Linked DNA regions of Homo sapiens. The protein of the gene in region 2 purifies or fractionates together with the protein of the main gene of each other region. This does not show direct contact. Each region holds a gene or a part of one and is shown on either strand. Other genes may lie near its edges.

Region 1 (3,652 bases), on a different chromosome or scaffold from region 2:
TGGAGGATTTTGAGCAAAGCCAAAAAATTGGGTTATATTTTTAAAGAATGGCTCTGGGAATTCTTTAAAACACTGGGAACCATGAGATAAGCTAGGAAATGATTGGAATGATCTGGTTTAAGAGACATTAATGGCTTAGACTAGAGCGACAGTAGTGGCAATAGTGAAAGTTACTAGTTTCTGGCTTTAGAGAGTCAAATGTTTTGGATATGTTAAGTTTGAAGTGTCTGTTAAACGCCCAAGTGGACACATCAGGTAGGCAGTTAGATATGTAAGTCAAGCATTCAGAGGAGAGGTTTGGACTGAGGATAGTTAAATGTTAAGCATCACCAGTAGACTTAAAGGGATCTCTTGGCTAGGGAGTTAGACTGAGAAGAGATCCAAGAATTGAGAATTGGTACTTTCCACATGGAAAGCTGAGCAAAAGAGAAGGCGCCATCGAGGAGGATTGAAAAGTGGACAGTGGGGTGTGAGGAAACTGAAGAGTGTGTTGTCCCACAAGCCAAGTAAAGGAAGTATTTTTAGAGATAAGGAGTGATCAGTCCCCTGTATCACCTTTAATCACCTAAATACTTCATAAGAAATCAGGCAGTATCCTCTTTCTTTCTGAATGGTCTCTGAGAAAGCAATTTCCTTTTTTAAATCTGGTTTATCAACATGAATGTTCACAGTTATTCTCCCCTGGCAACTACTAAATCTAAAGCCCTGAACAAAGTTTTACTCATAAAGAGGCCAATGCTGTTTCCTACGTGGATGAGTATGGCAGCTGCTGCTGCCTCTGATGTTTGAACAGGAGAAGCGATGCTGTTTCATAGGAAGAATTTATCAGGAAGCTAGTGATAGTCCAGCTACCTCAGAGGTTTATTGTGGTAGCCAAACGAGGTAGATGTAAAAACCAAATGAAAGGTATAATTGCAGATAGGGGTCTCCTTCCCTTATTGCCCCAAGTGTGGTACCAACTTGATAGTGTTAGATTTGAAGAACTATGTTGGCAAATAAAAATATTTTTCATTTTGAGTCTGTAGGAATAGTTTTTTACTTCCTATGCACTCTATCCCGATAGGCAGTTTCGCACATCATTTTATAATATTCTTGAGGGTAGAGAAAAGGGCTAGAAAGAGGATAAGAACAACCAGGGCAGGCGCGGTGGCTCACGCCTGTAGTCCCAGCACTTTGGGAGGCCGAAGCGGGTGGATCACCTGAGGTCAGGAGTTCGAGACCAGCCTGGCCAACATGGTGAAACCCCGTCTCTACTAAAAATACAAAAATTAGTCAGGCGTGGTGGCGCAGGCCTGTAATCCCAGCTACTCAGGAGGCTGAGGAAGGAGAATTGCTTGAGCCCAGGAGATGGAGATTGCAGTGAGCCAAGATCACGTCACTGTACTCCAGCCTGGGCAACAGGGTGAGACTCCATCTCAAAAAAGAAAGAAAAGAACAACCAGGCTTTGAGATAATAGCTTTTTTTCCCAATCCTAAACTCATCCTTTAATTCTAAACAGTGTCTAAATAAAGAGAATTGAGGTAGAAAAGTAAGCAAGTTAAAAGGCTTCCTTACTTTTTTTTTCCCTAGGCCAGCCAGGAAGACTTTCTTCTTTTAACTGACTTTTTTCTGGAAAGTGTTCAACTGAGTAATGGTTTGTCACATGTTACATGGAATAGAAAAAGTGCAAATTCAAAGCTTAGGGACTGGTTAGGGGTTTTGAACTCTAGGCAGCCAGCTAGAAACTGATTTGAGGAAGCAGGAGGGTGGGGGAAATGAGTCTGCTTGATGATAATAGGGGTAAAGTGCAAAATACTTATTTTGGTGAAAAAGGAACATCGCAAATACAGGACTTTTTGTGGTAAGCTTTTTGAGGCAATAGGACTATAACTTCACAATACATAGGTATCTTGCAGACCTTATATAATATGATTTGCTATGGCTGGTCATTAAATACTTCTCCTTGGATAAAAAATGCATATAATGCATTGCAAATTGAAGGCCATTTTATTTTTTATATTACAAATCTAATCCTAATACATGGCAGAAAATTTAGAAAACAAGATTTTCTACCATTAAGTACTATCATAATCCCACTAGCCAGTAACCCTGTTATGTATTCTTGTCTATTCTGGTTTAATTTGGTAACATTTTATCATGAAGTTAAACTTTCTGGCTCTAACTTTTAATGTGGCATAGAATCTGTCTTCTCAAACATGTAATCTACTTACACACAATTTATGAAAATTAAATGTATTTTTAAAATTGTAAACAACAGGCCGGGCCCAGTGGCTCATGCCTGTAATCCCAGCACTTTGGGAGGCCGAAGCCAGCAGATCACTTGAGGTCAGGAGTTCAAGACCAGCCTGGCCAACATGGGGAAACCCTGTCTCTACTAAAAATACAAAAATTAGCTGAGCGTGGTGGTGCACACCTGTAATCCCAGCTACTCGGGAGGCTGAGGCAGGAGAATCGCTTTAATCCAGGAGGCAGATGTTGTAGTGAGCTGAGATTGCTCCACTGCACTCCAGCCTGGGTGGCAGAGCGAGACTCTGTCTCAAAAAAAAAAAAAAAAAAAAAAAGTAAACAACACTGTAATGGACATTTCTAACTCTGAATTTCTGTGCAAATCAATGTTTTTCTTTGATTTCAACAAATTATGCTTAAAATACAATGCAGATACAAATGCAGAATTCTACTAATTAAACCTTTTCTAACTTTTTAATAAAATTACCCCCTCCAGTTTATATCAGTTTATTCTTCTACCACTGGCATATGAAACTGTGTGTTTCTTCACCCCTTCATCAGTGCTGAATATTACGTATCTTTTTTAAAATTTGCTTTCTTTTTTCTTTTTTTTTTTGAGACGAGGTCCCGCTCTGTTACCCAGGCTAGAGTGGAGTGGTGTGTTCATGGCTTGCTGCAGCCTTTACCTCCTGGGCTCAAGGGATCCTCTCCGCTCAGTCTCCCAGGTAGCTGGGACTGTAGGCATGGGCTGCCATGCCCATCTAAGTTTTTTTGTTTTCTTTTCTTTTTTGTGTTTTTTTTGTTTTGTTTTTTGTTTTTTGTTTTTTGTTTGTTTGTTTTGTTTTCTTGAGATGGAGTCTTGCTCTGTCGCCCAGGCTGGATTGAAGTGGCGAGATCTCGGCTCACTGCAACCTCTGCCTCGCGGGTTCAAGCAATTCTTCTGCTTCAGCCTCCTGAGTAGCTGGAATTACAGGCACACACCACCACACCTGGCTAATTTTTGTATTTTTAGTAGAGACGGGGTTTCACCATGTTGGTCAGGCTGGTCTTGAACTCCTGACCTCGTGATCCGCTCACCTTGGCCTCCCAAAGTGCTGGGATTACAGGCGTGAGCCACCGCACTGGCCAAGGTTTTTTATTTTTTTATAGAGACAAGGTCTCATTTTGTTCCCTAGGCTGGTCTCAAACTCCTGGGCTCTAGCAGTTTTCCTGTCTCAGCATCCCAAAGTGGTGGGGTTACAGGCATGAGCCACCCAATCTGGACAGTTTTGCCACTTTGATGAACAACAACCAAAAAAAAAAACCTTATTTAAATTTCTTTTATCAATAACACTTGACATTTTTTTAAAATGTGCTTATTGGCCATTGTATTTCTGATCTGAGTTGCTTGTATGTGTGCCTTTTGCACACATACATTATATTCAC
Region 2 (3,652 bases):
GATCATAGCTCACTGCAGTCTCAAACTCCCACGCTCAAGCGATCCTCTCACCTCAGCATCCTGAGTAGCTGGGACTACAGGTGCGTACCAACATCCCAGCTGATTTTATTTTAAAAAAATGTTTTGGTGTGGGGAGGGATTTCACTATGTTGCCCAGGCTGGTCTCAAACTCCTGGCCTCAAGTGATTCTCCTGCCTCAGCCTCCCAAAATGCTGGGCTTACAGGCATAAGCTACCATGCCTGGCCCGGGGAGTTAAAATTTTTGAGAGTAGTCAGGGAAGGCCTCCTGGGAAGGTGATTTTTGAATAAAGATCTGAAGGAGGTGAGGGTGTGCTGTGCAAGCATCTGGAGGAAAAATGTAGTCAGATGATGTCACTATCCTGTGTAAAACCCTCCTATAACTGTTAATTGCACTAAGAATAAAATCCAAATTTCCCAACTGTGCTTTCTGCCTATCTTTTCCTCTTCTGTCACTTTGCTGCAGCCACACCGGCCGCTTTTCTGTTACTTAAAGTATACCAAGCTCTATACTGAGGTGGTTCTTTTCTTTGCCTGAAACATCTTTCTACCTGTTCTTTGCAAAGCTGACACCTCATTCTTCAGGCCTCAGGTTATCACCTGAGAAAAACCTTTTCTAACCATCCTATCTGAAGTAACTCCTTTTATGGTACCATGTTTTAATGACTATAGCACTTACCAGAAGAATTTTTTTTTTCTTTAAACTTGTTTTTGGCTTACCTCCTTCACTAGAAGTATGTACACTAGAAGTAGGGTTCTGAGAGCAGGGACTTTATTCACTTCTCTTTTCCCATGCCCAGTAAGAATGAGAGGTCACCGTTTAGGAGAGTTAGAGGTATGGGCTTATATCTCTAAGAAAATGATAATTTTTAAAAAGTGCTTTATTTTTGGTATAGTGTCTTACCATAACCATTTCTCACCTTGTTGAACCCCAACTTTGCAGGGTTGTCTTTTGTTTTTGAGACAAGGTCCTGCTCATTGCCCAGGCTGAAGTGCTGTGGTGCAGTCATGGCTCACTGCAGCCCTGACCTCCCAAGCTTAAGCTATCCTCCCACCTCAGCCACCTGAGTAGTTGGGACCACACCTGGCTAATTTTAAACTTTTTTTTATAGAGATGGAGTCTGTGTTGCCCAGACTGGTCTCACATTCTTGCCTGGGCCTATACACCTCAGCCTCCCAAAGTGTTGGGTATACAGGCATGAGCCACCATGCCTGGCTAACTTTGTAACTAGGGAGGAGAGTTTTTGGATGTAGGGATGTCTTGACCCTATTGACTAACCATATTATCCTTTACTTTTGTAGAGACGCTCTCCTGGTCTGTGTTCTGACTCTTTGGAAAAGAGCTTAAGGATCACTGTTGGCAATGACCACTTCTGTGTTAGCACACCAGAACGGCGACGGCTTAGTGATCGGCTGGGGTCACCAGTGGATAATCTGGAAGACATGGACAGGTAGGCATCACCTAAGGCAGGGCCTACTATACTAGTACTTGAAGGCAGAAATGTTGCTGTTTTCCGAATGATATATTTGAAAGGATGGTGCCAGCTCTAAAGTTATTTCCTATGCCACATGTCCAGTACAAAATAAAACGCTGGGATAGAATTTCTAAGTGGGAGGAGTATAATGATGTGTAGACTCTGTTGTTGAATAAATTGTATAGAAAAAAAGACTTTAAAAAGGTCATCTGAGTCTGACTAGAAAGAAGAGGCTGAGGGGACATAATCAGAGTCCCCCAAATGAAGAACAGTTGAGATGGTATAGATTCTAAAACAGTGAAACTATGAGCAGTCCCTTCTCCAAAGAAAAGTTCTGGACAAAATGGGAAGTCTTTTTAAAATGGTGTTATTTTTTAGTTTATCCAGGCTGAAACAGATTCAGAAAGGGTTAGGTAAGTTCATGTCTAATATATGTGTGTATGTGAAGTAGATAAAGTATTAATAGAAAGCTAGAGACCTTCAAAAATGTTTAAGTTCAGTTATTATTTTACAACTATTGAGTGCTGAGGAAGGGTAGATACACTCAAGAGAGTTGGATATAGACCTCAGGTACTAGGAACTTAACCATATATAGATTGTAAATAATCACATTAGGTGTTTTTCACCTCACAAAAGTCAAAGTATGGATGGGAGTTCAGGAAAGCACTCTTTCTCAGAGCTGAGACCATGACTGTTATGGTCTCTGCCCAGCACATTGGGAGTTTTGACAAATGATTAGCAGTAGCAATAAATCAATGTAATGTAATTTCAAACTGAGACTGTCGCTTGCCGTGTTGCACAGAGCATAGCTAGGCGGGTGGGGGAGAGCTGGGCAGGAAGTCTGAGGACCAGTTTTGCCGTTGGTAATACCTAAAAGTTCCATTGGCTGTGGATGCAGTGAAGCAAGGCAGAACAGTCTTTTTTTTTTTTTTTTTTCAGGCTTAATTCACTTTATATTTCTTGTATAAAAACCCTATGTTGTAGCCACAGCTGGAGCCTACGTCCTCTGCACAGAGACTCTGGTGTGTGTCTTGATGAGGTGGTCAGTGAATTCCTGATAGGGAGACTTGGTGAATCCTGTCTCCTTCCAGAGGTCGGGGGTCAGGTAGCTGTAGGTCTTAGAGATGGCATCAAAGGTGGCCTTGGCGAAGTTGCCCAGGGTGGCAGTGCAGCCCCTGGCTGAGGTGTAGCAGTCATCAATACCAGCCATCATGAGCAGCTTCTTGGGCACGGGCTGAGACGATGCCAGTGCCCTTGGGCGCAGGGATGAGGTGCACCAGCACAGAGCCGCAGTAGCCTGTCACCTTGCAAGGAACGGTGTGGGGCTTGTGGATCTTGTTCCCCCAGTAGCCTCTGTGCACAGGGAGAATGGAGAGCTTGGCCAGGATGATGGCCCCGCAGGTGGCAGTGGCCACCTCCTTGGAGCACTTAACACCCAGACCGACGTGGCCATTGTAGTCCCCGATGGCAACAAACGCCTTGAACCTTTTCAACTGGCCAGTGTGGGTCTGCTTCTGCACTGGCATAATCTTCAACACCTCATCCTTGAGAGAGGCCCCCAGGAAAAAGTCAGTGATCTCAGATTCCTTGATGGGCAGGAAGAAGAGGTAGTTCTCCAGGGACTTGATCTTTATGTCCTTAACCAAGCAGCCCAGCTTGGTGACAGGCATCCACTCCTTATCCTTGGCCTTGCCTCCACGAGCTCCGTGGCCTCAGCCCTGTCCACAGCTGCAACCCCAGCCCCTCCATGGAAGCCACCACGGTTTCCCATCCCAGGGCCCCCGGGGCCTCTGCCCCCGCCCCACCCCCTCCACCGACATCATCTGCCATTTGGTGTTTTCTCAGAGAAGAAGCAAGGCAAAATAGTCTTATGTCATATAACATTGAAGCTTCTAAAGGGCTTCAAGATATGTGACTGTATCACTTAATTGAGGCAATAGCCCTTGCTCTTCTGGCTGCTTCTGTTTGGGGAAATTATTGAGTAGGTAGTCTGGGTAGGTGGTACATAGTGTGATTGTCTTCATTCTTTGCTGAGGTTTTGAGTTAGCTTCAGCAGTTCTTCTTAGGCCTAGGATGTCACTTCCCCTTTGCATAAACTTTGTTATGCACATGTGCTTCAGATAGAACTAATTATATTTTTAAATTACAAAAATTAAAAT

The links.
Region 1: the proteins of ZNF318 (region 2) and CEP170 purify together in Homo sapiens (co-immunoprecipitation; one large-scale study listed by IntAct). This does not show direct contact.

Annotation. Positions count from the first base shown.
Region 1 is NC_000001.11:243,245,137-243,248,788, reverse strand, and holds part of CEP170 (centrosomal protein of 170 kDa), read left to right. Parts: intron 1-3,652.
Region 2 is NC_000006.12:43,363,109-43,366,760, reverse strand, and holds part of ZNF318 (zinc finger protein 318), read left to right. Parts: intron 1-1,320; coding exon 1,321-1,469; intron 1,470-2,541; exon of another isoform or gene 2,542-3,346; intron 3,347-3,652.